2 linked regions of the Homo sapiens genome follow. The protein of the gene in region 1 interacts with the protein of each later gene in a pairwise test. Each region holds a gene or a part of one and is shown in the gene's direction. Other genes may lie near its edges.

The links.
Region 2: the proteins of TM4SF18 (region 1) and EFNA5 interact in binary tests that used the Homo sapiens proteins (3 or more experiments, as listed by UniProt).

Annotation. Positions count from the first base shown.
Region 1 is NC_000003.12:149,317,711-149,320,866, reverse strand, and holds the end of TM4SF18 (transmembrane 4 L6 family member 18), read left to right. Parts: 3' UTR 1-2,369; downstream 2,370-3,156.
Region 2 is NC_000005.10:107,664,102-107,667,937, reverse strand, and holds part of EFNA5 (ephrin-A5 isoform 1 precursor), read left to right. Parts: intron 1-3,836. UniProt on the Homo sapiens protein: Cell surface GPI-bound ligand for Eph receptors, a family of receptor tyrosine kinases which are crucial for migration, repulsion and adhesion during neuronal, vascular and epithelial development.

The DNA of each region.
Region 1 (3,156 bases):
ACAAAATGCCAATTATGCTTGGTTTGGGGCATTGATGACCCTTCTTCCCACTTTTCTATATTTTCCAAGATTTCTTTATTGAATATGTTTTACTATAAATATTTTCTAAACTCATATTTTCACTATTAAAATTTTTTTATTTTTCCAAACTTTAAGGCATATGCTCTTTCCACATTCCTCAACATTATTTGCAAACATCATGAAATGACACTTCCATCAACATTCAATGAGGAAAGTAGTGATATAGATGAGCCAAAAAGAGTTTTATATAAACTTATACAATCTAAACTCTTGCTCTTCCTTTCTGACTCCTGAGGGTGAGTGTGATGGACTAGAAGAGGTAGCCTTAAAATAAGTGAGCAGCTAGGGAACATGCTCAATGGGCAAGAGAAAATGACCACTGACCAGTCAATACCTGTGTCAGGGGGAGTTACCAGTACCTATATTTATTTTTAAAGTAATTAAAAAGTAGAACACTTACAAATTTTCCACCTATACATGCCATGTCTTCCTCGGGGACAGTAGCCACATCTTATATATTTCCCACCATGCATAGGACCCAGCACACAGTGAAGCCAGTAGGCACTCAGTGTTGAATGCTCATACCAGGTTTTCTGCTTCCTGTAGTTACCCTGCTGAGCACTGCTTCCATCACAGGTGCACTGGGCCTCAACACTTCTGCCATTTCCCCATTTGTCTCCTCCATGGACACTGTCAACAATGGTCTGTCAACACCTGCTCTGTGCCAAAGCCAGGGAGTAGGCTGGGGGGATACGGAAGAGAATATCTTTCTCCTTGATGCCTGCTGTGCCAACAGCCCCCTTTAAGCCTTGTTCACAGCCTTTGCTGAAACAAGCATCTTGAAAGCAAGCCATGTTATACACCGCATGACCTTCATGCTCTGGGCCCAGCTGACTGAACTGGGGCAGGCCCCAGAGTCATGGGCAGCCTATTGTCTTGCTAATGGCCTCTGACTTAGCCTGGAGTAAAACACTGTCCAAACAAGACTGGTGGTTATTCAAGCATAAGAATTTGAACTAGGAAGCCAAGAATGAAGCAACCGGACCATTACCATCAAAAAATGATTAAAGGATGAAGAAGGAAGCCAACATTCAGAGAGTATCTGGTTCATGTTAATAATGGTATCATATTAAAAGGAAGATACATGAACTTCTACTCCAAAAGCTCCTAAAACTGCCTTTGCCCACAATGAACAGTGTACCCTAGGCCTGGTTTCTGTTCTTGGATTCCTAGATAGTCTTTCTTCTTTGTCACTGTGCTGATCATTTCAGTAAACCCCCGACTAAATCAGTGCAGCTCTGTTTATTGCAACTAAAACGATCCAAATGAAGTCTCCCTTTTCTAGATGTTGGGTTGGAGGGATGCTAAGACAAAGATGCTTAGGCTCCAGAGTTTTACAGAGCTTCATTCAATAACACTCTACTTTCCAAAGAACTTAAATATGAGGTCTGAAGGACTTGGACCAAGAGGCAAACCCAAGCTACAGACACCATGTTGTACTCAGAGTGACCTCTCCCCTCTGACAGCCCAGGATTTCTCTATCAAGTCCATAAGCTAGTCATATCTAGGACCATCTTGTTAAAAATTCTCTCAAAGTCTCCTCAGCCCTCTTGTAAACAGACTTCTGGAAGGTCCACTTCATCAGTTTGTTATATACTTTCAGACTGTCTATCTCTTGTTTAGATTCAGCATGGCACCGTACGTTGAATGGACTGTTAATAGATGTTTGCTGAATGACTCCACCACAGCATTGGACACATCAGGGGTACAGCCAAATGCAGCATGATACCTCTATCAGGAAAATTAAATTTTAACACAGCCACCAAATATTCTATATTTGAAGAGTATATGCTAATCATGCAATTTTAAGTAAAAAAAAGCTGAATACAAAAAAAGCTGAATATGTGTTTTATATCCTCGTGAATTCAAAGTAAAAAGGAAAAAAAACTCAAAAACCAAATATATGTATGCAGTTTGAGCCCAAATTTTTAATTAAGTAACCATATAATTACATGTAGACATGTATAAACCTTGAGATATGTAAAGACCAGAAAAATATTTAAAAGTTAATAGTTACATCATCTGTGGTCACAACACCCTGAAAATGCCTAATATTGGAAACTTAAGCAGGATTGATCCAGGTTATTACTTGGATGGGAGACCAGATGCTATAGGCTGAAAAAAGAAAGCATAAGTACGCACAAGTTAATACTTAATAATTATCTCCTAATGATAGGACTATAAGTTCTATCTCTTTTCTTTACATTGTTCAGTATTTTCAAATTTCCCTTTGAAAATGTGTTATGTACTTGAATTATTAGAAAAAATAAATGTCATTTAAAAAGCAATGGTCCTCTAATTCTTTCTGTAAAATTCATTTAAGGAGTTAAAATAGAAAATATATATAGGTATGTATATGACTGGCCTTCTCTTACCCTTTCCAGAAATAATCTTTCCACTTTTTAATTCTGAGAGTATTATGAGCTAATCCTGATTGAGAATGATTTATGTTTTATGCATTTCTGCACTTATTATTTATCTACTGTTCTCCTTGCTTCTATCTCATTGTTATTTTCCTAACTTCTTAAATAGAATACCTAGCTTATTGATTTTCTAACTTTCTTTTTTTCTTAAAATAAGCACTTAAGACTAGACATTCTTTAATTACCACTTTGGCTGAATCTCACAAGTTTTAAAATGTTGCATTTTCCTTGTTTGGTTATAAATATTTTCTAGTTTTCTTTATGATTTATTTTTTGATCCATGAGATTTTTAATGTGCTTTAAAATTTCCAAGTATATGGCTGGGCGCAGTGGCTCATGCCTGTAATCCTAGCACTTTGGGAAGCCGAGGAGGGCAGATCACAAGGTCAGGAGTTCGAGACCAGCCTGGCCAACATAGTGAAACCTTGTCTCTACCAAAAATACAAAAAAATTAGCCGGGCATGGTAGTGGGTGCCTGTAATCCCAGCTACTCGGGAGGCTGAGGCGGGAGAATCGCTTGAACCCTGGAGGCGGAGGTTGCAGTGAGCCAAGATTGTGCCACTGCACTCCAGCCCGGATGACAGTGTGAGACTCCATCTCAAAACAAACAAACAAACAAACAAACAAACAAACAAACAAAAACTTTCCAAGC
Region 2 (3,836 bases), on another chromosome or scaffold:
TTAAAAATAAAAACTAACAGTTTTCCACAAACAATAGTAAGAAAATATTTCAGAAAATTTCCACGGGTTTAGTAAATTTTATAAATTCACTGTTGTGCAATTCCTTTTCCTGTATGTTATTTCATAAAGTAAGCTAGCCATGCTTTGTGTCTTTATATAGAACCTATCTGTTAAAATTTTGCTAAACTAGTAAGACTTCAATCTTTTGAAAAAAGAATAGAGGACTTTAATTGCAACTTAAATAATTTTTTTTATTTTTCCCTCAGAATATAATATGTTCAGTGGGCACGTTAAACTGATGATAATGTACACTGTGTCTAAACGAAGTAAATCTACTTTAGCTTATACTAACAGATTCAATTTGAAATTATGTTTAGGTAAAATCAGAATTAAATGTATCTTGATCACAGGGATTAAGTACAGTATCTTACTGTGTAACTTGTGTCACTTGTGTATCTGGTAGGAGTTTATCTTCTACATGGAGTTTCATTACTGCCTCTCCATTGATAAATGAGCATCTATAGATGTAGTTTCACGGGAAAAAATATTAAATTTATTTGCTGTCAGAATAGTTTTACTGTTACAATCTATGTACCCAGGTATTCACTTCTGAGAAGTGGATACTGAGTTTTCAAATGCTGATAACTTTTAGTTGGTAGTATTTATTGGATAGGGGACCAAACTGATTTTTTTATGTGTTGAATTGGCACAAATTTGTGAAATAGCCACTCAGAACTATCAGTTTGAATAGAAATATATGATAACATTTGCCTAAATAGATCTTCTATATTTCCAAAATTTGAAAACTTGTATAAGTTTTACCTAAAAGTGTAAATAATCAAATCATCCTTTTAATATTATTCTGAATTCTAAACTGGAATGTCACCAAGTAACTTTGAGTAATGAAAATCCACATCAAGAAGAATATAACTATTTGTCCTTAATTTCTTTAAGAATGTAAAAAGCTTTTAAATAAAGTTAAAAAGACTTCCAGTAATAAAAGTTTATTTACATTCTCCTTTAGTAGCTATGCTTATAAAGAGAGTCATAATACTAAGAACATGCCTCTTCATCTGAAGTATGCCATAAGCAGTTTGGTGCTTCTAATAAGAATATACTTTTAAACATCATGTGCGTATTCTAAGTTCTTCTTGGATTATTTTGACTATTTGCTGAAATGATATTAGGGTAATTAAACATATCTCCTACTGGTTGGCATTATTGATGCAATAGTCAAATAATACAGCAGCAAATATGACCAACACACTTTTAGGAATACCAGTCGTCCTCAACCTGGTGCTTTGCTTCTGTTAAGGTTTGAGTATCATCAATTTAAAAGGTTATACTCTTAAGAGGAAAATATCTGTGTAAGTCATGAAGGATTTACTAAACTTTAACCTAATCATGTTTTCTTTGGACTTTTTCAATTCTTGTAGGGACTTGTATATTAAACATTTCATATTAGAGTAGCAGGTAATTGACACCTTTTAGTTTTGTTAACACGTAATCTTGGAGTTGTGAAAGTAATGTGAATTCTAGGTCAACACTCCCAAGTCCTCTGGCAGTACAGGTCAAATGTATGTGGCTAAGAAGAGAGAAGTAGTAACATTTTTTTTTTCCTAATCATATTCCCTTGAGTATTTTTCTTCTTTCAAAATTTAGTTGCTCCATTTAAAAAAAATCTGAGCCATCATCATTTTGACATATGTATACCAGTATGCCGGCACTGTGACCTTTTCACTGACAAGTAAATGAAATCAGCATGGTTTAAATCTAAGAATTTGTTGTGAGTAAAGATTGAAAGTTTATCTTGGTCTTGAATGAGTTTCATCACAAAACTTAGATTGTCCTTACTTTTGAAATTTTAAATATTTTAAGTAATATTTTGTATGTTAGAAACATAAATGTTTTTCAAGTAAAAGGCATTAACTTTAAGCCTCAGTGTAACGTATCACATTATTAGATGTATTGGTAGTAATTTTGTTACTCTGAAATTTAGATCAGAATTTATGCAAGTACCAGGCTAAAAATAAGGCAGTATGATTGAGGTTTATAACCCATGTTTTTATGCTTATATGTTTATAAGAGACGTGAATTGACCCTCCCCCCTTTTTAATCTAGAAATTTGTAAAAGAGAAGTATGATTCCTGTTTTTTGGTGAGTTTTCCATAGAATTTTGAAAAGCAGAGTTAGCTACTAAGATATGTTCTACCTATTTGATTCATTATTTTATATATTCACAATAAACTATCAGAAATACTCAACTGTCTGATTTTTAGATGATAGGAACATTAGAGCTATTTGAGGCAGATTTGGCTATACAGTCTAATTTGGCATTTTCAGGGTAAGACCAAGGTCAGTAAACTACTAGTGATTAAAAGTATCAGAGTCTTCAGTAGTTTATTACTCTCTGTTAGGTGATTTTAGTGGTAATAACTAAACCATCAGCTCACTGAACTAATATCTTGTTGTCATGTGTGTTGTGGCTGACAGTAGCTTCAGAAGCTTCCACCTTTGAAGGCTGAGGATCAGGTTTGGAGGGAACACTTAGTTACTTGGGTGCAAATTAACCTTGTGAATTTCTTGCCATTTAATCTTGCAGAATACCTTCTGAACAGGCATTTCACTGCATTCTGTCCACTGGCCTGGTTTCCTGTTGGATAAGGACATAAAGATGGGCGCCTCCTTTTCTCCCCTGTTGCTATGAACCAAGCAAGCTACCAGCTTCACGCTGGGCCAAGAAAATGAATGAATACAATTAGTCCTTCAGGAGTTCTGGCCTTTGCTAGCTTGGGATAAGTATATGCCAGAAAATTTACCTTTGAGAGAGAGAAAGCATTAAAATAAAAATGAACAAAATATGAGAATATGTTAAGAATAGAATTTTACATGTTGGGTAGCATTTGGTCTAGTGGCTTATTGGTTTGTGTTTTCAATATAAATTTAAAAATTTTTTATAAGATACCACTCAACCTTCCTCATTTTTGTGCATGTGTTGAATAACTTCGGTAGCAATAAAGACTTAAAAAGCTGTGATATTTTGTTTGAAATAATGAACGACTCTGTGTTGACGATTCTATATTATCAATTTTCTTTTCAGAAGCAGTATACAAACTGTTAAAATAGCATTCCGGATTAGAATATCCATGTTGCAAAGGAAGCCTCAATTTCCCTAAGCACAGTGAGGAAGGTCCTTGCCTCTTACCCAGGACAACTCAGTCAGATCCGCTTTCTGAACTGAGGAAAAAAATTGCCCTTTGATCATTTGTGATGGATAACACCTTCATTTTCAGGTATAAAATCCTCAAAGAGGAGTATAAGAAATGAGGTATTAATATTCACTTTTAATAATTTGTCTTACGATGGTGGTCTTAGACAGCCAAACATCAATAAATTACTGTCTCTTTTAAGGGCCTGATTTATATTATCAAATTTATATTTTAGTCTGCTTTTCAACCTATGTCCTGAGCTGTTTTGTAGAAAAGTTTCTTGTGATTAATGTGAACTTCCAGTGCTTCTGAATAGGATATTACTCACTACTAGGAGATTTATTTCCTCTTAAATTTGTCTGCATTTATGTTTTCAAAATTTAGTCAGTCATAAAGGAGCACAATGACACAGGACCATCTAGCTTAAAATTAAAAATTAATCAAGTTTTTTCTGACTACAACTATTTTGCATGATCTTGAGTAAAATCATTCCTAATATCTTCATATTCTTGATAGTACTTTTTATTGTACTCTCTAAAGGATTTATTGTAAACTGAAATCCGTGTGCTATTTTCTAATTGAAAAATTTGAGTGGATGCAAATTCTTGTTTTTGAGGCTTCTGAATA